Regions from separate parts of the Homo sapiens genome. Here regions 2 and 3 are each linked to region 1. Evidence: fine-mapped expression QTL. A gene starts in region 1. Each other region holds a variant in brackets. All regions are shown on one strand. Distances are between the middles of the regions. Region 1 holds the start of RNF217 (ring finger protein 217). Region 2 overlaps RNF217 (ring finger protein 217). Region 3 overlaps RNF217 (ring finger protein 217).

Evidence for each region. PIP is the estimated chance that this variant, and not a neighbour inherited with it, causes the effect.
Region 2: its variant is fine-mapped to the expression of RNF217 in skeletal muscle (FUSION, PIP 0.95).
Region 3: its variant is fine-mapped to the expression of RNF217 in skeletal muscle (GTEx, PIP 0.93).

Annotation. Positions count from the first base shown.
Region 1 is chr6:124,954,259-124,965,626 of GRCh38, reverse strand. RNF217 (ring finger protein 217) reads right to left here and starts at 3,190. Exons shown (of 6, transcript NM_001286398.3): 1 at 2,201-3,190. The coding sequence starts at 3,082. It overlaps RNF217-AS1 (RNF217 antisense RNA 1), which reads left to right and starts at 2,600. Exons shown (of 7, transcript NR_026876.1): 1 at 2,600-2,804. RefSeq lists enhancers at 9,136-9,724, 9,725-10,314.
Region 2 is chr6:124,989,987-124,997,986 of GRCh38, reverse strand. The region is part of intron 1 of RNF217 (ring finger protein 217); the gene reads right to left. Among named protein-coding and RNA genes, the nearest start is that of RNF217-AS1, 31 kb to the right of the region's middle. The variant C/A (reference allele first, on the strand shown) is at 3,225.
Region 3 is chr6:125,052,699-125,060,698 of GRCh38, reverse strand. It overlaps RNF217 (ring finger protein 217), which reads right to left. Exons shown (of 6, transcript NM_001286398.3): 3 at 2,593-2,757. Among named protein-coding and RNA genes, the nearest start is that of RNF217-AS1, 94 kb to the right of the region's middle. The variant G/T (reference allele first, on the strand shown) is at 3,337.

The DNA.
Region 1 (11,368 bases):
TCATCTTTTTGTTGCTGTTTATTATTTTAAATAATGTATATTCTTCTTTTTTTTTGAGAGGAGTCTCACTCTGTTGCCCAGGCTGGAGTGCAATCATGTGATCTTGGCTCACTGCAACCTCTGCCTCCTGGGTTCAAGTGATTCTTCTGCCTCAGCCTTCCAAGTAGCTGGGATTACAGGCATGCGCCACCATGCCCAGCTAATTTTGTATTTTTAGTAGAGACGGGGTTTCACCATGTTGGTCAGGCTGGTCTTGAACTCCCGATCTCAGGTGATCCACCTGCCTCAGCCTCCCAAAGTGCTGGGATTACAGGCGTGAGCCACCGCACCCGGCCAATAATGTGTATTATTATTTATTGAAAGTCCCAGCAAATACTTTGGAAGAAGGTCAGGCACATACATACAATCAGAAATGCTGCAGACAAGCTTCAGATACTGTGTCACTGCAGAGGAGTTTTTAGTGGTTGTACTGTACACTGCAATGACCACTTGACTATGTCCCTCTGTCTCCCTACTACCATTACTAAAACTTCCTAAAACTAACTTATGAGGTTTAATAAAGAAAAAGAAAACTGCTTTGGGGAAAGGGCCCACCATAAGGAAATCAAACTGCTAGGTAAAGTACCCCAAGCCACAATGACTACCTCCCTTGAATTTCTGGAATGTGTATCCAGCATTTAACAGGAAGTGCTATCTGGAATTGTTACTCTATTGACATCTCATCCCATGCTACCTTGTATTGTTCTTTTGTACACATCTGCTCTCACAGTGACTTCCCTGGAGGCGGGCTTATATTTTGGAAATGTCTGAATCCCATCGCAGGGCAGCGAAATCTGTTTTGAGGATGATGATACAGAAACTACCACAACCAGCAGCAGACATTCCTCCTGTTTTAAGAATCTCTGTAGATAAAGCATGAAAGAAACAACAGTCTCTCAGAGGCTTTTAAATAATCCCAACTATTTTAGCCAACTTACTGTTTATGTAACATACCGTTTTAAGTCTTTGTTTGCATTTTTAGTTAGGGACTGTACACACTTTCAGTCTAGACCCAAGCATGAGTTAGCCAAAAAACATAGAGGAATCACATGGTACGGAGCCCTGTTCAGTTTGTCCCAGCCAATGTTATTAAAAACACTATGATGGGCAAGGGACTCAACATGAAGCTACCACATATGGGACTCTAAGACATTGTCCAGACAGTCTAACAAGACAAGCAGACACGAAAGAAACAACTTCAGTGCATGTAAGATAATATAAGATACTGTGAAAGTATATAAGCAGTGACTTGGAGGGTGAGGCAACGCTTCACAGAAGAGTTGGCACCTGAACACACAGGGTTTTGAAAGATGAATAGGCCTAGGACAATTGGACACAGGATCAAAGGGCATCCAGGATTGTGCAAAACACTGGCAGAAACATCACAGATTGAAAACTGCTGGAAGAACGCATTCACCGTCAGTGAAGGAAAGCTGGTCTGGTGCACTCTCAAGCTTTCCAAGAAAAAAAACCAAGTTTTCAAATAAAAGCAGAGGAGGAAAGTTTCACCAGTGCTTGTTCTGAGAAACCTCTTAGCCTCTCTTTGCTTTGTTTTGCTCTTTCTGTTTTGCTTCCCTCTTAAAGAGTGCTGGCTTAAAACCTCAGTGAAAGAAAAGTACTTCAACTTTACTGTGGAAAAAGGAAACTGAAAAGTAGGCAAAGGCCAAGGGATACATTTTTTTAAACATTCACTCTTTCCTGGAATATACAAATGAAGCAAAATTACAAATTCATGTATTATGGGTCTGAAATATTTATTCCAATTCTTTTCTCCACCAGCTCCATAAATATTTATTCTATGCCCACTGCTTGTTAGTTTCTGGGATACCAGGCCGATGAGGCAGTCTCTTCCTCTCCTCCTTTGAGCAAGCTTGTGCTTGCAATCCTGTATAAGAAATAAGAGGAGGGCAACAACTTGTATCTTGTGCCTTCTACACATGCCAACCATAGCCTGAAGTTCACAGCAAAGTTAAATTCCAGTTAAGTAAACCAGTGAGGTCATAATACACTTAAATAACAACTGAGACGTGAGAAACTAACAGAGATCCTCAGTAAGTGTGTCGGTCACCTCTTCGCGCGAGCAGGGAGATCAGATCGAGAGCAGGACCTCCTCGCCAGTGATTTGGAATGATAAATGGGGAAGAGAAGGGGGTGAAGTTACCTGGGCGCTCAGGTAGACTTTGAGGCACTCCTCGCACACGGCCTTCTTGCAGCAAGGCAGGGGCTTGATGGGCTTGTCTTCCAGGCACACCCGGCACATCAGCACCATGAGGGGCACATAGGGATCCCCTACACCGCCCAGGCCAGAGTAGGGTGGAGCTCCCAACAGGCTGGGCATGGAGAACGGCTCGGGCGCCAGGTAGAACTCCAGCTCGATGCTGCCGCCGTCGGGGGAGAGGGAATCCGTTGGGAGGGACAGTCGGGGGCTGGGGAAGGAAGAGCGGGTGCTGGGAGGGTTCAACACTGGCGGAGCCCCAGGTGGCGACGCGGGCGGCGAGAGCTGCTCCGAGGCGGGGGCCTCGGGCAGGTCGCTCTCCACGCAGTACACGGAGCAGAAGACTTGTCTCTTGGCGAGGGACGGGCGCCGCTGACCCAGCACGTCCAGGACCAGTCCGTCGGCGGCCCCCACGCGGGTCCTGGGCTCCAGCTCTTCGCCGGGGGGCGCCTCCTGCTGTTCATCCCCTCCCTCTTTTCGATCCCCAGCTTCCTCCTCTTCCTCCTCCAGCTCCAACTGCAGTGGCAAGGTCTGGGGATTGAGAGGCCCGGTGAGTGCCAGTCCCGCAGGCTGCGCCGGTGCTCGGCTCTTACTCCAGCCCGGGGGCCCCAGGCTCCTCGCGGGCTCTGGGGCGCTGGTGTCCGCGCAGCCCCAGTCGCTTCCGCAGCCACCGCCGCTCGGCTCCGCGGAGGCGGCGCGCAGCGGGGGCGCCCGGGCGCTGTCCCCCTGAGGCCTCGGGGGCTCAGGGTGGCCCGCAGTGCCACTGGCCAGGGTCTGCGACTCCTGGGGCCCGCCGCCGCCGCTCACCGTGCTCTGCTCCTCGCCCATCGCCGCCCGCGGCCCGCGCCGCCGCTGCCCATCCAGCCGCCGGGACCCCCACCCGGCGCCCGCGGGCAGCGGGGGCAGTGGCTCGGCTCGACTCGCGGCTCCGCTTCTGCTTCCGGGTCCTTCCTCCTGGGCTGGGACGCCCCAAGTCCCCTCCGGGGAGCCCGTGCTCCGAGGCTGCGGCGCGTGGGGAGCCTGGCCCGGCCCGCCGCTCCTCCTCGTACTCTGGCGCGGCGGGGCACCGCCTCGGGGGCGCCGAGGGCCGCTCGCTCTGGGCTCGGGCGCGCCCGCCCCACATGCAGCTCGGGGCGGCGCCGCAGCCCCAGCGAGCCCCAGGCGGGACAGAGGGGTCTGGGAGGAGACGGCCGTCAGTCCCGCGCCATCACCGGTCCCGGCTGCCGGACGCGCGGCCCGAGGGCGGTGGTCAAAGGGTCGAGGGGCCTGTGGCGCCGCCGCGGCGCGCACCAGGAGGTGCAGCCGGAGCGCTGGCCAGCCGCAGGGCCCCTGGGGGAGAGGCCGGAGCGGGCGACCTCCCTCTCCCCGCGCTTCACCTACAGCCCTCCTCGCCGCCCCTCACCCCACCCCTTTGGCGCACACCTCCCCACACGTACACACGCGCGCAGGCACCCGCGCACACACACACGCACACCCTGAGTGGGTGTGATCTAAGAGCTGAGATGCGCTTTCTCGCCCGGAGTTCACACTCAGCCTCAACAAAACCCTCAGAGCAGGCAGGCTCCCCTTTGGTCTCCGCATTCAGTAGAACTTCCTACAAAACTACACTCAGCTCTGGAATTAGTAAACGCTGGCTATTTAGGATGTCGAGTTCAGAGAAATAATGCTAAGGATTATGAATTCTAAATGCTGTATATTACAACTCTGTTTTTCTGCCTAGTGGAGTAGGAAGAATCTTCGAAACCCATAAATAATCGAAAAAGCACTTTCGATCTACTCCTCCAACTGGAATCCTTAGAAGAGTTGATAACTAATTTAAAATTTCTCTCTTTTTCTTCGCCTACAGTGTTCTCTTAGAAGTTTTTTTTTTTAACCCTTTTCAGCATTCCAAAATGGATAGCACAAGGTGGAAAAATGTCCTGACCTAATTAATAAACTGGATCATTAGTGGAAATCATGGGCAGTTTCATTAGCATAACCATATTTATCCTCAAAACTGTTTCCAAAACAACAATTATATGTGAGCCAGGACTTAATTATGTGTTGATCTATCTTTATTTTACAGGAAGTATTACTCACCCAGACACTGGTGTTTTAGTTCCCTAAAGCCAGTGAAAACATTTTTGGGAAGCCAGCCCTTGTTTTGTTTTTTTTCTCCTGAGAGGGAATTCAATTTACACATTCATGTAATAGCAAGGAACTGTAAAGTGTGTAGAATTTTATTTTTTAATCTCGAAGTTGTTATTGGGTTGTTCTAAAATATTTTCCAAATCAGATGCAAATGATACAAAGGTGACTAGCGATGCAAACTAAGAAAGCAGTGTAATGCCAAAGAACATTTCCATCATATATGTGTGTCTGAGGCTCAGTTGCAAGCAAAGGTATGAATTGGATGTCTAAATGCCATGTCATCTATCGGTCTGACCCAAGAATGGAAAATTCTTATTTTGAAGATTAAATGCTATTCGAGGATTCTTTTCTTTTTTATCTCAGCTAAGTGATTTCCTGGTAACTGCTGTTTTCTCCAAATGATACTTTAAGTGCTTATTGTTTTAAAGACAGAGACAAGAAACCTACTTATGTGTGCCTTTTGAGTGTGCCATCTGATGACCAAGCCACTATTCTTTCCAGAGATATAAAAGTAATCTGCATTTTCCAGGTGACAACAGGCTAAGACCAGAGTAACAATAATGGATGCCAAAAAGTATATTCCCACAGCGTCTATTGGAATAAAACCCCTCAAAGTCCTCTTATAGTTTTGGGAACCCCTCCTCACACACATTTTTCACTCGTATTCTGAGAACTTGTTCTTCCAGTGTTTACCATTTTATTCCTTATCCCTTAGGTTCCAGCTTACTGGAAGTGGCTGTCCTCTACACCAAACCCATTAGAAGTCCCTGCTGGGACTCATGATGGCCGCCCATATCTCTGCTGCTTAAAACTGCAGCCCTTTATTTTGCCATGACTTCTTCCCTACAGAATTCATTGGGCCTTTGTGAAAATAGAATAATATGTGGTTCCCTATTTCCACCCTCCAAATTGGCCCAAACTTGCCTGAATCCTTGACCCACCACCCCTGGCATTCAATCTAGTGCTCATGGGACTCCAGCAGCATGGAAGTGAATTAAATTGAAAAGTTAACATCGTGGTTCCACAATGAATTTTCTCTGAAGTGCATGAAGCACCAGTAATGATTGTTTCGATGGGATTAATTATTTAAAGAAGGATTGGTTGAAAATATTTTATTAACCAATATTTAATATTTTAGCAAAAATTCCATTTATCTGCCACAAGCTTAATATTCTCAAAACTCAAACCATCTGCTCCATCTCAGGTTGTACACAACTGTTGATACAACGTAAGTACTATCACTAATATCCTGCTCCTACCAACATAAAGCCTCAAAATGTCCTAATCTGCAGTGAACTGTGTACCTTCCCTAAAATCCAGACTTCAATATCAGAAAACTATGTCAGTTTTAGAATGCTGTTTTTTCTATTATTGCCTTTCTTATCCTGGCATTAAAACATGACTTCTTTTTGGCTCCCTTCAATTTTTTTAAATCATTTTTATTAATGCATAATATTTGAACATATTTGTGGGATATATGTGATATTTTGATATATGCATACCATGTGTGATGATCAAATAAAGGTACACAGGATATTCATCACCTTGAACAGTTATCATTTCTTTGTGTTGGAAACATTTCAAATATTCTCTTCTAGCTGTTTTAAAATATACAATATATAGCTATAGTCAGCCTACTGTGCTATTGAACACTAGAACTTAGTCCTTCTATCTAAGTATATGTTTGTATACATATAACCAACTTCTCTTCATCTGCCCCTGTGTTTCCAGCCTCTGGGAACTATCATTCTCCTTTCTACTTCCATGAGATCAACTTTTTAAACTCCCATATATCAAGAACATGTGATATTTGTCTTTCTGTGCCTGCCTTATTTCACTTAACATAATGATCTCTAGTGCCATCCATGTTGCTGTAAATGACAAAATTTCATTTTTTATGGCTAAATAGTATTTTATTGAATATACATACCATATTTTCTTTATCCATTCATCTGTTGATAGACACTTAGGTTGATTCCATATCAACCTCTTGTAAATAGTGCTATAATAAATATAGGGGTGCAGATGTCACTTTGATTTACTGATTTCCTTTCCTGCTACTGGATAAATACCCAGTAATGAGATTGCTGGATCATATGGTAGTTATATTTTTAGTTTTTTGAGAAACTTCCAGACTATTTTCTATAATGACTATACATATTTATGTTCCCATCAAGAGTGTATAAAATTTCCCTCTTCTATGCATCCTGGCCACCTTTTGTTATTTTTTGTCTTTTTGATAATAGTCATTCTAACTGTGGTAAGATGATGTCTCATTGTGGTTTTGATCTGCATTTCTCTGGTGATTGATGATGCTGGGCATTTTTTAAATAAACTTGTTAGCCATTTGTATGACTTCTTTTGAGAAAGAAAGTCTATATAAAAGAAAGTCTTTTGAGTTGATTTTTGTGATCAACTGTGTGAGTGATAGGTGTCTAGTTTCATTCTTATGCATAGGGATTTCCAGTTTTCTCGGCATCATTTATTGAAGAGAATGTCTTTTCCCCAATGTTTATTCTTGGCACCTTTGTTGGAAATTAGTTGGCCATAAATATGTGGACTTAATAATATTTCTGGATTCTCTATTTTGTTTCATTGGTCTATGAGTCTGTCTGTTTTTATACAGACTTTCTTTTATACAGACAAGAAATGTCTGTTAATGTCCTTTGCCCAATTTTTAGTGCAATTATTATATATATTATACTGTTGAGTTTTTTGAGTTCCTTGTATATTCTGGGTATTAGTCCCTTGTGGGATGAATAGTTTGCAAATATTTCCTCCCATTCTGCAGTTTGTGTCTTTGCTCTCTTGATTGTTTCCTTTGCTGTGCATAAGTGTTTTAGTTTGCTCTAATCCCATTTGTCTATTTTTCCCTTTGTTGTCTTTGTTTTTGCAGTCTTAGTCATAAAATTATTGCCTAGACCAATCTCCTACAGCATTTCCCTTATGGCTTCTTGTAGTAGTTTTATAATTTCAGGATTTACATTTGTATTTAATCCTTTTTGAGTTGATTTTTGTATATGGTGAGTCATAGGGATCTAGTATTATTATTCTGTATATGGTGAGTGATAGGGATCTAGTTTTATTATTCTGTATATGGATTTCCAGTTTTCTCAGCACCATTTATTGAAGAGGGTGTCCTTTCCACAGTGTTTATTCTTAGTGCCTTTGTTGAAAAATCAGTTGGCTGTAAATATGCAGACTTATTTCTGGATCTCTATTCTGCTTCATTGGTCTAGAGTCTGTGTTTATAACACTACCATGCTGGTTTGGTTGCTATGGCATTGTAATATAATTTGAAGTCAGGTAGTGTGACGCTTTCAGCTTTGTTCTTTTTGCTCGGCATTGCTTTGGATACTTGGGCTCTTTTTCTGTTCCATTTGAATTTTATGTTTTTTTCTCTATTTCCATGAAAAATAACGTTAGTATTTTGATAGAGATTGCATTGAATTTGTAGATTGCTTTAGGTAATATGGTCATTTTAACGATGTTTGTTCTCCTTATCCATGAGCATGGGATGTCTGTCCATTTGTTTGTGTCCTCTTTAGTTTCTTTCATCAGTGTTTCACAGATTTTTTTCTAGAGATCTTTTATCATCTTGGTTAAATGTATTCATAGGTATTTTATTTATTTATTTATTTTTAAATATTGCAAACAGGATTATCTTCTTGATTTCTTTCTCAGCTACTTCATTATTGTTGTTCAGAAGTGCTACTGATCTGTGTATGTTGGTTTTGTATCCTATAACTTTGCTGAATTTATCTATCATAACTAGGAGTTTCTTTGATGCCTTTACTCATCTCTTCTCCTTCAGGAACACCCAAAATTTGAATATTTGGTCACTTCTTTGTCTCATATGTTATGTAGGCTTTGTTCTTTTTTATTCTTTTTTGTTTTTTGTCTGATGGGATTATCACAAAAGGCATCTTCAAGTTCAGAAATTCTTTTTTCTGCTTGACTTAGTGGATTTTGAAGCTCTACATTGTATTTCTTATTTCATTCATTGACTTATTCAGTTTTGGATTTCTGTTGGTCCTTTTCTATGATATCTCTTTGTTGAGTTTTTCATTCAGATCATGAACTGTTTTTTCTGATTTGTTTGTGTTTTTAAATCTATGTCCTTTTGTATCTCACCGAGCTTCTTTAATTTCATTATTTTGAATTCGTTTTCAGTCAATTGATTTCTTTTTTGTTGGAATCTGTTGCTGAAGAATTATTATGTTCCTTTGGAGGTGTCATGTTTCCTTGCCTTTTCATGTTTCTTGCATCCTTGCATTGATACGTGCACATGTCATGTAACAGTCACTTCTTAATTTTTTGGATTGGCTTTTGTAAGGAAAGACTTTTTCCTATAGATGTGTCTATGGTGTTGGTTGGGTAGGGCACTTTAGCTTTGATTCTGGGTGTGTGTAGTTTCTGTATGATTTCTTCAGCTGTAATCAGCATCAGTGGTATTTTTGAGTTTTCCTCAGTGACTTAGGTTGCAATTGTTAGTGGAGGATATGGTGAGGCTATTTTGGGATGGGAGACACCAGTTGGGTAGGTTATTGAGCTCTGATGGTGATGGTGGTGGCAGGACAATTGGGCCCATCCTTGGGCCCCCAGGTGTATACACCGTTACTGGTATTTGCAAGTCCAGGCAGGCAGCCAGGCAGCTTGCTTAGGTTCCAACAGTGGCAGAGGTGGGTCAAGCAAGTGGGCATGTCCATAGGCCCCTTGGTGGCATGTGTGGTATGGACAATGACAGTAACAGTGACAGGCCAATACTCAGGCCCTCATGCACTACTGGTGGTTGCACATTGGTGGGTGGCAGCCTTTGTGGTAGTGGCAGGCTGGGAGGACCCATCCTCAAGCCCCCAGGAGAATTGCACAGACATCAGTAATGGCAGACTGTGTAATCAATCCCTAGGCCCCCAGATGACACGTGCAAGTACTGACAGGCCTCGCACCAGGCAGGACTGTTCTGTCCTCAGGCCCCAGGTGTTACACGTGGGTGCAGGCTGTGGTGGGTGGGACTGTTCAATTCTCAGGCTCCCAGTTTATTTGCACAGGTGTTGGCAGGCTGGGCAGGCCTGTCCTCAGGCCTCTGGAAAGCATGCATAGACACTGGTGGCAGCAAATGAGGTGCGTCAATTCCAAGGCCCCCAGAGAGCATGCTTTGGCACGATTGGCAGGTAGGCTGGGTCTGTCGTTAGGCCCAGCTGGCAATGACAAACCTACTGATGTTGTGTGCATATGCCAATGGTTCAGGCAGGGCAGGTCAATCTCCAGGACTGCAGATGGCACACCTGAGCACTGGAAAGCATGATGCCAAGCATGGCAGGCCTGTCCTTGGGTCCCCAATAGTGTACGCGTGCACAGGCTGTAGTGTGTGAGGCGGGGCAATCCCCAGTGTCCCAGACAGCCTGCATAGGCACCAGTGGTAGGTAGACTGGCTCTGCTGTTAGGCCCCCTGATAACGCATTCATATAGCAGAAGCAGCAGGCAGGGTGGGTTGGTCCCCAAGCCTTCAGCTGTTGTGCTTGGGTGATAGCAGCAGTGAGTAAGACTGGCCTGTCCTCAGGCCCTTGGATGACATCTGCCTGGACCAGTCACCAGGTCCATTGAAGGCACATACATGTGCATGGTGGCCCTTCTGCTGGGGTGACTGGGCTGGCTGTCAGTGGCAGTGGTGTTCTTCAGGCTCTGGGGAGTGCACATTTTGCCTTACTTCTTCCTGGGTGCATCCTCCCCAGTGTGCTGCACTGCCTGTTCCCCGGGGTGTAAGACTCTGCATGGGCTAGAGGGCTTGGAACGCAGCAGCACCATTAGGTTCAGCCAGCGTCTCCGTGTTGCAGCGCTCTGGGTTGTCATGGGGGATTATCAATATTGGCAGGGTTCCAGGAATGTGAAGATGCAGGGCTTTTGGGCCCCAGGGCAGGATGTAGGCTAGTGGGGGCTCTCAAAATAGCACCACGCTGCTTGGGTCTGGGGAATGTGTTAGACCCAGCAAGAGCTCCCATCTGGAACAGTTGTGTTGCAAGGACCCCAGGCAGCTCCCTATACTATTCTCAGTTCTCAGGACTGCAGGAGTCTACTTCTAGGGATCTCTCCCTTACCCTTTCCCCACACTGGGGAGCCTCTTTTGGCTCCTCTCAGGTCCCAGCTGGGCCAGCTGCCTTGTTTCTCTCTCCTTCCATGCCTCAGATATTCCATGTCACTTCCTTGCTGAATTCCAGTGTTCTCTCTTCGATGCTGTATTCGATCTATGTTTATCTACTTACTGTTTTCCTCCTTCTCTGTGGAGGAGATGAGTGCTGGGTGCCTCTAGTTAGCCATTTTGAACTGTCTGAAATTTTTTATCCAGACGTTAAAGAGTTGAGATTTATTAACTCATTAAAAATGTTATGTTATATCAGAAAAACTATGACTCATTTTAGTTTTACATATCAAAGCCAAAACTAATTTCTTCTAAACTATTGTGGAGAAAAAATACATAATATTTAAATGCCATGAAACAATTACAGCAAATACCTGACTTGTTTTTCTACCAATCTCTCAATTATCAAAATAGGTATAAAAATATAGAAATAATTTAATTTAAAAAATCAATTCCTGAAAAGCAATGTCTGTGGTGGAATTTTTTCTACGTCTGCTTCTGAAAGTTGTAGTGTGATGTTCATCCTGCCTTTCCTATTTCTTCCCTCTTATATGTGGAGGAAGAGAATTTGGAATCATGAAAGGAAGAGTTCATCAGGTGGAAAAGAGAGGAATACAATCATTTCACTTTCTTTTTCCACCTAAATCCCCTAAGGAAAAATCCAAATAGCCAACTTGTATGAGATAAAGTTAAAAATAAAACAAAACAGTATAATTTGTTTAAATTTTAAAAGTAATGAAAACCCAAATGCTTAGAACACAAAGGAAACCAAGAAGAGGGAAGAAGAGGAGAAAAGGAGGAAGGAAATAAGGGAAGGAAGGAGAGAGAGGAGAAGGGAGGAAGGC
Region 2 (8,000 bases), 34 kb before region 1:
ATGCCGGAGTCAGGCAGACATTCAGGATTCAACATGGAAATTTTGGAGTCACCGTCACATAAGAACAGGTAAGGACAGTTCAAGCGGTGGGATCAGTAAGGTCAAAGGGATACTACAGGATGAAAAAATTAAAAGCAAGGCAGATATTGGAGAAATACATTAAGTTAGTAGAGTCTAGAAAAGCCTTTGAGGGAGAGACAACTAAAGGTGAGAAAGTAAAGAAAACAAGCAAGGGAAAGTGTTCAGGGCTGTAGAGAGAGCGAGCAGATTAAAGATGCAGGATTTACCCTGAAACTAGTGTCCAGGTATCTCATCGCCACAGGCTGTTTCCAAGGACCTATGAATGTGCTCAATGCGTCAGATGTTTTTGCAGGAGTGAGAGATTTAACTGTAATTGGTTAAGACCCCTGTCACTTTCCACTCTGACTTGCCCTTCATCAATGTGTCTGCTGTCATTACTACAGCTATGAGTGAACATTTTTCGGATTTGCCTAAGAAGTATTTGAGATGGGAATATATTAACTCGAGTTGTGTGAACCTGTCTATGTGATTTACAGTCACTTTCGCATATGGTTAAGTAATTGGCAGAGCCCTAGGGTAGGAATGATTTCCAGGAATATCTTCCATCCTTTTGTGCTGACTTACCTGGAGTCATGACTTAAGCACCAGGATTGTAATACAACATGTTCTATAAAGCTCAGGGTGGGGAACATGCGAGTAGTGAAGCAGCCATACATGCAAATACATGGAGCCGTGAACTCTTCTATAGAAAAATCCTTTCAATCATCACACAGAACATTTTAAACAGAGGATTCTCTTTTCTATGCCTGGTCAAAACAGAAATTCTCTTCTCATCAGTTTAACAAATGAATACACACCGGACCAAAACAGAAAATAAATTCTTTTTTGACAGAAATGATGAAAAAATAGACTCTACCAGCACGTCCGTGTTTGTAGAACCTAAACTTGCAGGAGTGCTACAAACAAGTCTGTGTGAAGAGGAACATATTTTATGCATCTCCACTGTCAATACTAAACCATATTAAGATGATTTAAAGAAAATACGGATCATTTTTATACTCCAACTTTCAAAATTACATTACAAAATTTTCATTATACAAAGGTAATCAGGCTTTATATAGTAAAAAATAGATAAGTAATATAAAGATATACAAGGCAGTTAAGAGGAATGTTATATTTTAAAACTGCAATATTTGTAGTATTTGGTAGCTTTTAAAATTTGTAATTGTTGTGACTTATAGTCTCATTGTAATCATTTACTTTTGCATCTAACTTTATATTCATAACTTAGTCTTAAAGAGTATGCTCACACTGTATATGCTTCAGGTTACACAAAACTTGACTCTTCCCCTCATTATGAAGTTTGCCTTCAAGAGCCAATGTCAACAGAGCTGTGGGGACAGAATTCAGATTGCAATGGATTAAAGATAATTAAAACTCTTCATAAAAGACATCATAAAAATAGAAAAAGAAAACCATGAATTGGTAGAAGATATCCACAACACACATTTAACTAACAAAAGATTAGTATTGAGGGTATAAAAAATAGAACTCCTATCAATCAGTAAGAGACAACCCAAGAAACAGAAAAATGGGCTAAAGATAAGAAAAAGCACATCAGAGAAAACATAAATTATCTTCAAAAATTAAAAAAATCTTCAAAATTAAAAATCTTCAAAAATAAAAAAAGCTCAAGCTAATTATAAATGAGGGTAATGAACACACAAAATCATGAGATGTTTATTCATACCCTGCAGACTGGCAAAACACTTAAATATACGATGAAGTACTGTTGAGGTTATGGAGCAATGGGAACTTTCATCAGCTGTGGAGCGAGTATCAACTGGCACAACCACTTTGGAAAACAATTTGGCAATACCAAGCCAGGTTAAAGATTCATGGCCTTGTGAAGCAACAAAACCTTTCCCAGATTTAAAAAATCTGGAAAAATTCCTATACATGTACATAGTCTGTAAGAGAAATAGAAAAAAAAAACCCAGAAATATTCCAAATGTTTTTCTTTTCTTGATTCTTTTTCTTTTTTGAGACAAGAGTCTTGCTCATCACCCAGGCTGGAGTGCAATGACACGATCTCGGCTCACTGCAACCTCCACCTCCTGGGTTCACATGATTCTCCTAGCTCAGCTTCCCGAGTAGCTGGGATTACAGAAGTCCATCACCACGCCCAGCTAATTTTTGTAATTTTAGTAGAGATGGGGTTTTGCCATGTTGGTCAGGCTGGTCTCGAACTCCTGACCTCAGGTGATCCACCCACCTCGACCTCCCAAAGTGCTGGGATTACAGGCATGAGCCACAGCACCCGCCCTCCAAATGTTTTTCAATAGGCAAAGTGTAAGTAAATCGGGTTATATTCATACAACAAACTCCAAAACAACAATGAAAAATGAACAAATTGCTGTCTCATATAAAAGAATCTCAAAATGTTAACTTTGAATAAAGTAAAAGTCCTATAAAAAACATACAAAGAATGTTTTCATTTTTATAAAAGTGATTAAAAATGTGCACAACTAAGCAACAGTGTTTAGGGATGCATACATTTGTAATGAAACTAAATTAATAAATAATTCAATAAAATCCAGGACATTGTTTAGCTCTGAATCAGAGTGCACAGTGTGTTTTGGATGGCACCAGGATGGCCTTCAATATTGTTACTGTTCTATTTTTTATGTGAGCTTTCATTTTATTATTGTTTTTAAAACTATAACCATGTGTTATATTCTTTTGTATGTATAATATTTCACAAAATAAAATCTGTAAAAGAGATTAGAGGCAATAAAAGTACACTAACTTTTAATAAAATATGGATGAAGAAGGTGGTGGTATAAATAACTGACAAACCACAAACATCTCCCTACTCAAGGGTACAAATATAGTCAACAATGAGAAATAATCTTGTTTTAATTTTTCTTAATAGAACTATAAATTATCCTTAGGTTAATACTTGGATACGTAACATCCCATTTTTACACAATATTAGTAGCCTGAATTTACAAAGTTGTCTATTCCTGGATCATAAAAAATTCTCGTAGTATACCTCAACTTTCTCAGTACTATCTCTTTTAGATGGTAAGCTCCAAATCCCAGAGCCTGCCAACAGTCAGCCACGGAGCTATAAAATTCAGGCTCAAGTAACAGGTGTACAGTTTTTCAAGTATAATTCTTACTCCTAAAAAAGATGAAAG[C/A]ATAGTTGGAAATATAATGCCATACAACTGCCTAAAGTAGCACTTACTAGCACAAAAGAAAACACTTGGGCAGCTCAGGATGTAGTAGTTTGAGGATATATACAAAAAGCAGGTTGTAGAAACTTTTGTATCTACCTAACATCATGCTAGTAACTAACTTTTTTTTCTCCAATTTGGGAGCAGCAAAGCAGCTGTGTATGGGAGAAAACAGATTCACACATCTGAAGTCAGAAGTCTGGACAGTCTTAGTTATTTCACTTACAAGTTTGTGAAGTCTACCATTCATGAGGCAACTGGAAATTTGAACACTGACTAGATATATAATGATATTAAGAAATGATTATTATTTAGGTGTAATTATGTCTCCGTTCAAAAGAATAAGTCCTCACTTTAGGGAGATACATACTGAAAGACTTGCAGATGAAATCACGTCAGGATTTTGCTTCAAAATAAGGAAGGGAAGGGGAAGTGAGTGGGAATAGATACGCAACAAAATAGTTCATAAGTCACTAATTGTTGTGGTTGTGTGACAGGCACATGGGGTTAGACTATTCTGCCTATATTTTAAAAATATGTTTAAACATTTATAAAACAAAAAGATACACACACATCCCTTATATACATATTTTTTTTTCTCTAGGCTAATATTTTAAAATTCCATTTTCTTCTAAACTTGCTTTTTCCTCTTCCTTCCATCATGACCCCTTCCCTCTTTCCAGTCCCTTCTCCACACTCCAGCCAGAGTAATTTGTTTTCTCAAATGCAAAATGTTGTTTCAATGACTTTCAATCACTGCCCACTACCTGCAGAATAAAGGCCTCAATTCCTTGTCATAGATTAATGGCTCGAATTCCCACTCACCTCTCCAGAGGATCTCCTGCTTCTACTGAGCCACTGCAATTCACTGAAGAAGTATGCTCTTTCAGCTGTGGCACTCTTAGCCCTGACACACTCTTTACGCAGCCCCTTCTTTATCTGGCTAACTCCTACTTACCCTTAGATCTCATCTGAGGCCTCACTATTCCTTACAAAACTCTCCCTGACAAACAGCTGGCCTACCCGGCCTTCCTATGTGCCGCCCAGCACCTGCACCTAGCTCTAATGTAGCACCTACTACACTGTAAGACAGGTGATTTTACTTATATATCTACCCGAATAGGCTACAATTCCCTGACTTAAAAACATGTCAGGTTCACCTTTGCACTGCCAAGATCTGGAATAGTGCGTGCCACAACTAGAAAGCCCTCAGTGAATATTTGCGCAACTGAGGAATGATCTTATTCTCTCATATTTCCTAAGCCTCTTCATCAAAGAAAGGAAAACCTAACCAAAGTTTGGTTAACAGATGGGCTAATGATAATAATTTTAGTGGAAAGGACGGGAGGGGAGGAGAAGATCTAATATTTACTTGTAATTACTATCTGCCAGTTATTGTTCTAGGCACTCTATTTATATTGTTCGCTTAGTCAGAAAACCCAAGATACTTGTAAAAATACAGATTCCTGGGACACATCCCAGAATTACTAAATCAGAATTTCTTGGGGCAAGACCTCAGGAATCTATTTTTTAATAGATGCCTCATGCGTTTCTGATAGTAAGTCAACTTTAGGCATAACTGGCCAGCAGTAGAGACCAAAAGAAAGTTCATATATCAAGTATATTTTACTATTTGAACTCAATTATTACAAAATGTTTTATTTGATTATGCTCTATAAATTTGCCAATAATACTACTATAGGCAAGAGCACTGACAGTTGTTTCTCAGTCTATAAAATGAACAAATATTCTATTACATTGGAAAATTTAGACAGCTTCATGGCAATGTCTTTTTCTGATATCTAAATGTAACATCATCAAAGACATAAATCGTTTTAGGTAAAAGATGAGTGGTCATCTGCATAAGCAACTAAGGATAAATTTATTAAATTTATTTAAAGTAAATTTATTACATTTACTAACTAGTAATTTATTAAAGTAATCCAATTACTTTACAATTAGAATTTGACAAAAAAAATCATTACAACAAAGAATGTTCTGCTAAAGAATTATTCTTTACAAAATTTGGAACAGAAAAATTCAATGTACTTTTATCATTCAAAAGATAGTACCATACTTTCCAAGATCAAATCCACATTCTGAAACAAAATGGAACAAGTCAATTTCAACAAGAAAAACCTCCCCTCTTCTCACTATTCTAAACTTTTATTATATAATACACTAGAACAAGCTAACCGAATCCAGTATCTTGCTATAGATGTTAGCAGAACAGCCATTACATCTACACAGCATTAGAAATATAAACCACAAACCAGCCTATGTCAAGTACATTCTTAAAATCAATGTTCTATAGCCTCTTAGTTTCTTATTTTCTCCTGCTTGACTATTATTTATCAAGTTTTCATTTGGGAATAGAAAACATGTTTTAATATATGTAGCTTTGTACAAAACCAGTATTTAAGGTTTCACCTAGTTTTATTAGGAAACATTATTCTAATTACAAAACATACCTTTGCGGTAAAAATGAATACATGTCCTACTTAAAATGTTAAAAGGAGTTATTCCTTAATATTTTAGAGCATTCTACAGCCTTGCTACTCAAAGTGTGATGCTGCAGGTCAGCATTACTGGCATTACTTTGTAGCTTGTTTGAATTGTAAAAGTATAGGCCCCATCTCAGGCTTAGTAAATCAGAATTTGCAATGTTAACAAGATCCCCAGGGCATTTATATGAGAAGGAATACTCTGTAATTTTCATAAATCATTTGAGTCCCCTGGGTTCAATATCAGTCATGGACTAATGACCTGTATGACCTTGGGGAATCCATGGGCCCAGGGCTGTCTAATAGAGCTTTCTGGTATGACAGAAAAGTGCTATACCTGAGTGGTCAAATACAGCAGCCACTGAACACAAGAGCCCTTAAAAGTTGCTACTAGGACTGAGGAACTAAATCTTTACTTAATTTTAATTTACATTTGAATAGTACCATGTGGCTATTAGCACAGGTTTAGAAACTATTTATAACATAAAATCCCTTCCAGCTCTAAAATCTTACAATTCTAGATATAGAAAAAATGATTTACAAAATTGTCTTCAAGATACTATTTAAAACAAATGTCTGTTGATCACCTACTACATGTCAAGCACTCAGGCCTCATGAATCAACAAAACCAAACAAAATTCTTATCCTCATGGCCTACAGCCTTGCGGGGAGAAAAAGACAACAAAAATGAATATAATAAATAAAACACATCATTATTAGAAGATAATAAAGCCATGAAAAAATACAGCAGATTAAACAAGGAAGAAGAATGCTGGTATGGGGGGGATGAGGGTTGGTAGCATGTATACATGGGTTGCTAAAAGAAGGCCACTAGGAGAAATTGATATTTGAGCACAGACTGGAAACAGATTAAGAGCTAGCCATGTAAATATTATGGGAAAGATGAACAGCTACTGGAAAGGTCCTAATGCAGACATGGGTTTGATGTGAGAAAGAGCAAAGAGTCCGAGAAGCTGGTTCTGAGTGAGCAATGGCAGGAGGAATAGAAAATGGAGTCAGAGAGGTCAGAAAGGAAACAGGGTGGGGGAACAGAGTCATGGATCACACAGGGAATTGCAGGCCACTGCAAGATCTTTGGCCTTTACTCTGAGGAGACATTGTAAAAGAGCAACATGTCAGGTCTTACATTTTTAAATGATCTCTCTGGCTTCACTGTGTCACCCAGGCTTTGCAGTGGTGTGATCTTGGCTCACTGCAACCTCAAAATCCTGGGGTCATGTGATCTTCCCACCTCCCTCTCGGGTAGCTAGGACTACAGGAATGAGCTACTGTGCCCAGCTAATTATTTATTTTTATTTTTGTAGAGATGGGGTCTTGCTTTGTTGCTCAGGCTGGTCTCGAACTCCTGGCCTCAAGTAATCCTCCCACCTCAGCCTCTCAAAGTGCTGGGATTACGGACGTAAGCCACCATGCCCAATTTGGCTTCACTCTTGAGATCACTCTACAAAGGTACTAGGGCAGGGAGAATAGTTAAGATTTTACTGCTAGATTCCTGGTGAGAATGATGGTGGCATGGTTCACAGTGGTAGCAGGGGAAATGGTGAGAAGTGGCTCAATTCTGGTTATATTTTAAAGGTAGATCTAACAATCACACATGAAAAATAAGAATGTGCTATGACAGAAAGAAGAGTCAGAGTTTATTCCAAAGTTCTGGTCTAAGCAACTGGAAAAATGGAATGGCCATCAACTGAAATGGTGAAAACTATAAATAAAACAGGTTTACAGGGAAATATAAAAGAACTGAGTTTTTGAGATGTCAAATTTGAGATATCTCTTATAAAATCAATTGCAGATATATTACATAGATGTATAAACAAGTCTGGAGTTCCATGAAACTGTCTGAGCTCGGGATATAAATTAGAAAGCCAGTGGCAGATACAGAATACTTACCAGAAATTGGATAAGATAATAAGAGTAGTGAGCATACATAGAGAAGATAAAAGGACCAAGACTTATAAGAGTTAAAACAAAAGTTAAGAAGTAATTCAGAAGGAGATTAATTAACAACAAATCATAAAATAAATATCCAGTGTGGAATGAAGAAAATGAAGACTATGGTGTCCTTGAAGTCAAGTGAAGAAAGTATTTCAAGGAGGATAGAGTGATAAATTGTGTCAGATACTTACAAAAGCAGTTACAGTGGAGAGGTAGAGGCAAAGCTTGATTGAAATGGGTTCAAGAGAAAATGGAAAGAAAGGAAATAAGAGATGGGAGT
Region 3 (8,000 bases), 97 kb before region 1:
CTGAGGCGGGTGGACCACTTGAGGTCAGGAGTTTGAGACCAACCTGGCCAACATGGTGAAACCCCGTCTCTACTGAAGAAACAAAAATTACTCAGGCATGGTGGCTCATGCCTGTAATCCCAGCTACTTGGGAGGCTGAGGCATGAGAATTGCTTGAGCCTGGGAGGCGAAGGTTGCAGTGAGCCGAGATCGTGCCATTATACTCCAGGCTGGGAAACAGAGCAAGACTCTGTCTCAAAATAAATAAATAAATAACAATATTTACTAAAATTATGAACTAATTAAAACATATACCTATAGTAGGGTACAAATATATATGTGTGTGTGTGTGTGTGTGTGTGTATACACATATATACTTTCCTAACAAAATTTTAAATACATTTAGTTATCATGATTGAAAGCATTTATATGAAAATATGTGATAATTGTTTACCTGGAGGCATTATGTGAGAAATTCTTCATTTCTTTTACTCAAATTCCTACCATCTTCCTATTTTATATTTATAAATGGTAAAAGATATATTTATGAAAAGAAAGCCTTACAGTATAAAACAAATATTAATTCACTCAGTAATATCTCCTCATAGGTTTCTGTTGTAATAATAGAAATGTTCCATGGGGCAAAACATAATTTTAGGGTCCAAGAAAAAAGGTAAAGTTTTAAAGTCATGCTTAAAAGAGAAAGAAAAATGAAACCATTTATACTCCAAACACATCATAAAATATGACTTAAACAGACAGAAACTTCACAGAACCCAAATCCCACCAGAAAGTAGGCTCTCTGCTACAATGTAATAATGTCCACTGATTCCATGGTTCTTTTCCTTTCAGCTATTTAAAAGGTAATCCCTTTTAAAGCCCTGACCTTTTAGCTATTACTTCAAAGGGGAACCAGCATTTATGCTTTCTCTTAACAGTTTATCTACATTTGTTACAACTGTGGAAAGTTGTTAGAACATTCAGTAAATTCCCCATGGTCGGCTTCTTTTTCTTCCTTTACATTATAGTCCATTTAAGGTTGGGTTAAGAGATTACAGTAACAAATGTATGTATTTTGTGTTACATCAGTTTATTCAGAATTTCCCCAACGTATAATGCTGCAGTGGTGCTCATTCCAAATCCAGTTGTAGAACCAGGCTAACTTGGAATTGTTTTTACAGCTTTCCAAAGGATATAAAATGCACTTATGAATAACTGTTAAGTAGAATAACTTAACAGCACTCTAAGTTCCTACTGGTCTTTGTTTTGTTTGAAACTGAGCAGTAGCTTTGAATAAACTAAAAAGGCAAGAGAAAGGGGGGAAGGCCTCATTTTCTAGTTGTTCTTTAATGGAATGAAAAATAAGTATACTGAGCAACCGATGCAGTGATCTGAAATAGCTCTAAAACAAAATGGGTGACTGTGGATGAATTTGCCTTCTACAAGGAAAACAAAGAAAACTTTAGGCCAAATATCTTTAGACATCACTTCTATTAGAAAGCCAGGTCATCTAAACTATTTCAAAAATTTCTTCCAATTGCTAAAAATGCAACACGTTATTTCATACAATACTTTTCCTTACTATATTTATAAACCAGTATGTGAATTTGGTATAGTAAATCTGTACATTTATTATTATTATGCTCATTTATAGGCTTAGAATATACTTTTACTTCCAATTGTATTCATAATTTTTAAATTTTAAACATTTTCTGGCAATTCAAGTTTCATTTATCTGGTGCTAAGTCTCCAAGAAGTAATTGCAGAATTGTGCTTAAAAGATAATTAGGCCAATTTAGAGATTATTTCCAAAAATAAATTTGGCAAAGGGTAGGAACCACATAAGGCAAAGGGTACACACACATGATTTTCTACAGTAAGATTTTTTAAAACTTTCAAACTTCAACAGATCCCTATACTATAGACATCAAGTCCAAAGTTTTCTGGTTGAATTTACTGGCTGACCTCCCGTAGGAGAGTCTTCCCTGGCTGTTTGCTTGGCTAACTTTCAACACATCTAGGTCTGAGCTCAAATTGCCTGCTAGTTCTTGATTACTTGCATGATTATCAAAAGAAAGATGAAAAGTGGGATTCATAAAATCCCTAAGTCCTGATTTTAGCTATGAGCTTTTACTTTACCAGATTTGCAAAAAAGCAAAACAATCAGTTCAATTTAATGTAATTTTTAAGTGATCAGCAATGTCAGCAAGGAAAGAAAAGCAAAAGATCGCAAGGATTCAAAGCCTATATAATTGAGAAGTAATTATAGTACACGTGGCAGACTAGAACTTATACTTTTATATCACTTTTACGCTATATTTTTCCTATAAAGTACATCCTCATTTTTAAATGTAATATAAGGACCTCAATGTCTTAAGTCAATATTTATATGTGGCCTCCTTAAATTTTGAAGAGTAATGCAAAAATAAGAATATACATGGTTTATAAAAATTTTCAGTTTAATTATATAATTACTTTTCCAAAATAAAAGAGCAATACTCTTTTTCCACATACCTGCATTAAGACAGTTATAATTCCCTTCAATAATGTAAATATTGTTCAGTCACATCCAGATGTACATGTTTTTTCTTTTCCTCCTAAAAGTTATCTCACCTTGCACTTTGGACACTTCTGGGCATTCCTCTGCCCATGCTCAATTTCGCTGGCCCAGTGACGCAACAATTTGTCTCCTTTTTTGTACTCCTTGCAGTTAACACCTTCATGCCAAGGAGAGTGGCACTTAAAACACCAGACGAATTGGCAGGTAGGGCACTGGATCTGTGTAAGAAAAAAATCATATTAATTACTAGTGGATATACTGAAAGTGTCTAAAAGGATAAGAAGGTGATGCTTGGGGAAATTAGCTAAAAGTTTATAATTTAAAATACCTCCCCCTCTATAAGACTCAAACTACAGGAAGATATGAATACTCTGTTACTACAGGAAAGAATTGCTTTGGCAAGGATGACTTGGCTATTTGTAGGCTGTACTGGAGTTAAACATTTGGTTCTGGAAACCAATTTAGCTTTAAGAAAATCTCCCAGATTTAAGTGCAGTCTCCCAGATTGAACCTGAAGGCTCACAAGGCCCCAAATCCACACACTCAGGCTGCCCTTTAATTCACCTTTCCTTTGAACGAATTACCCAGCCATTTCCATTGTCTTCTTAAGAATGGCTTATTTCATTTTATTTTTAAAAAGCCCCACAGATGCTTCATCAAATAAAAAACACAGTAGCAGTCTGGGTGTGGTGGCTTATGCCTGTAATCCTAGCACTTTGGGAGGCTGAGGCGGCTAGATCACTTGAGGTCAGGAGTTAAAGCCCAGCCTGGCCAACATGGTGAAACCCCATCTCTAC[G/T]AAAAATATAAAAATTAGGTGGGCATGTTGGTGCATGCTTGTAATCCCAGCTACTCAGGAGGATGACACGAGACATGACAATCACTTGAACCCAGGAGGCGGAGGTTGCAGTCGAGCCGAGATTGTGCCACTGCACTCCAGCATGGGCGACAGAGAGAGACCATCTCAAAACAACAACAACAACAATAAAAACACAGTAACAAACAAACTGCTAGAACAGCATTTGCTATGAAGCAGCATTTAAAATAATGGATACTCCTGGTTTGCTACCAACGTAAGGCAGGCTAATTATAAAAACAATGCAAAGCATTCTATTATTAGAAATATATCAATATAGTGGCCCTGTGGCCTGTACTTAGAAAACCGTCAGAAACGGGCCTTCATATTTCACTATGTGGAGGGGTATATGACAGTGCACGTGTAAGTTTAATATGAATATCTGTCTTCCACTTGACATGGAGGATATTTTATCTGACTTCCTTTATTTTGAATGATAGTGGAATATTCCACTCATACACATTATTTCCACTCCTAACTCTCTAAAAGCATATGGGTATAACCTGACTTACAGAGCCCCATGTGATTACAATGGATTAATAAAATGTCTCATTATGAATGATATTTATAACTGACCACTCTCTTTGCTCCTCTATGTCACGTCACTGCAGCATGTGTGAATTCACTGACTACATTTTAAAGGTTAGTTAGAATTTCCTTTTTGGAAAACAACTTTTTTGACAATGGAGGTTCTACTATATAGACTAATTAGCTGAGTGGCAATTACAATCACAGCTCTTCTGTTAATAACTCAAAGCACTGTAATTTTCACTTATGTCAAGAATGGATAATGCTCCTCTTGTGCAACTATGAAGTAAAAGTACTTTTGTTATTAACTTTATATAAAAATGGTATTCTGTCATAAGGCTTAAAAGATTTTCACGTTTATTTATTTATTAAAATTCTGTTCAATGATAATGTCTATGTTGAATATATTACATGCATTATTTATTTTCATCCTCAAAATAATGCTGGAAGGTAGATATGAACATCATCAGTTTACAGATGATGGAAATGAGACTCAGATAGATTAAATAACTTGCTGAAGGTAACACAGCACATATGTGTTAAGAAGGAATTTAAACGTAAGTTTGTCTGGCTCCAAGTTTAGCATAATTTTCACTATAGTCTTATACTAAACGGCATTTGTTCTTTGACAATTGACAACTTAAAATGTAGTAGTCAAAGATGGTCATATCATTAAACTATTCAATAAGTCAGAATTCCACATGATTACCAAGATAAGGTGAACTTTGAAAATTCTTTTCAAGATCTACTTATATAAATTGAGAAACTACTTGGTTTAAGTAAAAAAATGAAAAAAGAAAAAAAGGATGTTACTCTTTAGTTATTTAAAATAACTGTTTTCCTTTTTGATCATTACAATTAAAATAAATCATTTTTAAAAGAAAACAAGTTGAAGTAGATGAGATTCAGCTAAGAAAACAATATAAAATGTTTACTTCCATTTGCCATTGAGCAATGAAGACTAGATGTAAATATCACATGGAGCCTTCCTTTCCAATATAATGAATGAAATGAGGAAAGAAGGAAAAAAATTGCTTTTCCTTATGCATCTAACATTAAGTCAGAACACCTGAAAAGTTAATTCGGTTATCTTCTATTGGACATTATTCATAATTCTGAATCACTAGATTCTAGCATCATTAAATGAACTTTTTGAAAAGATCTCTCTAGTTTTTAATCAGTCTTAGATTATATTTATGAAATATTAGAATGAATGTAAAGATGCTTTGAAACTCGGATTCGCTCTATAAATGTCAGACATTTAATGACTCAAAGATCTTTGTGATTAAGTGCTGAACTATCACATTTGTGAATCTCTAATGAAGACAATTATAGCAATGCATGATTCTCCTAAGGCATCAGAATAATAAAGAATCTGACGCTTTGTGTCCAAACCAGGGACTCTGGCTCATAATAAACAACCAAGTCCTACTGCAGATCCTATTGCAAATCCTCACCAACAGCACAGACTTAGTGGGAAACTGTGACCAGAGTTATGGGGCAGTCTCTCAAGTGAATACAAATAAGTTAAACTCATACTGGATTGCTTACTATCTCTCACTGAAAACATCAGAATCACTCTTTATTTGCTTTGGATTAAAACCATAAAAGGACTAATAGCCAACTCCAACAACTTTGGTATTAAAAGACTACATCTGAAATTGTCCCAGATTTTTTGTTCTGAAGATGCCTCATTCATTTTGAACTTAACCATATTCAAAATTGGCCTTACGCAAACACATACAGACATCAACACTGCATCTTCCTCCACTCTTTTATTTACAGTTATTCTTCCACATGAAATGCTATCTCACAACCACATACCCACCACATGGAGTGCCTGCCTTCTTAGTAATTACAGTCACACAGAAATCATCATGCCCTGTCCTTGTGGCTCAAAGTGTGGTTGCAGGGCCAGAAACATCAGCATCACCTGAGAACTTGTTGGAAACACAGAATTCATGAATCCTTAGACCTCAGAGCCAAAAGTGCACATTTTCACAAGGTCCGAAGGTGATTTGTATGCATCCTAAAGTTTGAGAGGCACTGCTCTATACCATGTGACTGCATCGCCCAGGCCACAATTTATTGGACCAGGAATGAGTCCCTAAGCCAAAAACATGTATCCACTAGTTGGCAAGCTGCCTAAGCGGTGGCATGAGCTTTGTGTAGCATGGGTGCTCATTGTTGAATGGAAATTAGCCAAGATAGATTTTTCTCTCTTGAGGAGTGTCATAGAGATACAAAGGATGCCTTCATGGAGGCAAAGACAGAGAAGAGCTAAATGACTACAATGCAGACCACTGGAGAAGGACACAGACATTGACTTCTGGTGAGATGACAGAAGGGCTCTCACACTACCAGAGCTTGTGTCTGATTCTCTATGAGGCCTGCCTGGGCAGCTGCAGAGAGTATTTTCCTGCCCTTCCTGCTCCCCATGGAGCCTTAGACTAAACCTCACTAATTGAGGTAGCCCAAGAAACAGTACATTTCTGCTTCTGGTAACTGGAAGAGTCCAGTGGATTAAACCTATTAAAATCTTATCTTGATCAAATGCTCCTTTCTTCAAGATGTCTTCCCTATTTCTTGCAACCAGATTCAGTACCTTTCTTATGGAACTTCCATTAGGGATGTAGATGTCTAATCTCTCCAACAGCCCACAAGTTCACTCCTCAGTGAACTGTGTTTGTCAAAGGCTTTGTCTCATGTAAAATGAATGATTTTACACACAGTTTAGGTATCACGTATCAGTTAACATTAAATGAATTCAAAGAAAAACCAACATATCTAATTTATGACTAGTGGCTGAGGTAGTATTACTAATTCCTATATTATCAGATGATGTTTACTAAATACATTGTCCTAATGAACTTTTACTAAGCACTATGATCAACGCACAAACTCTTCTAAAAGAGGCAAGCAGGGCTTCAAGTGCTTCAAGAATAAAGTTATCAGAGCTAAGAATCTTAATTAGCTTTCTCCAGAACTCACAAAAGATAAAAGAACCTTACATTAGATTTTTGACTTTTGAATACCCTTAGTTTTACCAGAAATCTGTGCTATACTGAGATGAAAGTACGCCGACTCACCTGCCCTAAGAAAATGGCATTTTCTCCTGATAATTCATCAAGTCGAGTAAGGAAACAACCCACAAAATAAAAACAGTGTCTAAAACTAAAGAAAACCCCAGATCATTATTTTCCTGCCTAAATTCTAGATACCCCTATACACATCATTATTTTAAATAAATCACAAAATCATTACTTATCAAATTCAAAATATTAGACAACATCCATGTGTAAAGTAGCACTGCAAATATAAGAGCTGATTCAGTTTTCCAAAAAGGATTTGCTTTACTAGAACCTCAGGTTCAGATTCTCAATAATGAAGCACATGTATCAATTCATTTTCCCATCCAACACATATTTATTGGGCACCTTCAAGTAGCAGGAACTGCTTATGTTGATTGTAGGCAGAAAAAAATGAAAATACTTGTCCTTAAGGAACTTACTGGGGTCTGACAGATATAAACCAAAAGAGCTATAAAGGCATATAGTAACTGCCAGAATAGAAGCTGGGACAAGTGAGTGCCATGGAAAGAGGCTTCAGTGAAGCTGGAACATAAGCGTTCAGAGAGAATGTGGCCTTCAACAATGAGTAGAATGTTACAGGGACAAGTGATGAGGTAACACTTTGAATAGAGGGTCCATCCTGAGCCACCACACAGAGGCCCAAGAGCACATGATATATTGGGGAAACAGCAAGTGTTCTAATGTAGCCTGAACAGAGATGTCACTTCAGCTAGCTCAACCCTGATCCTTGCTAAGTGTACAATAAATGGAGCCAGTAAGTTCCTATAATCCTGGCATGTCCCCCAAAATATACCATGGTCCAGAAACTCTGCATAGGAAACATGTAAAAATCATGGCTGTCAGATTCGGGTATGTCCTAAAGAAACTAACCAAAATGGTAAATAATTGGGAAATCTTGTAGTTATAAAAATGTTTTAAAAACTGAAGATGCTTTTCTTGAAGATGAGATGTGGAGAGGTACAGCATGTTATAGAGAGGAGAAAATGA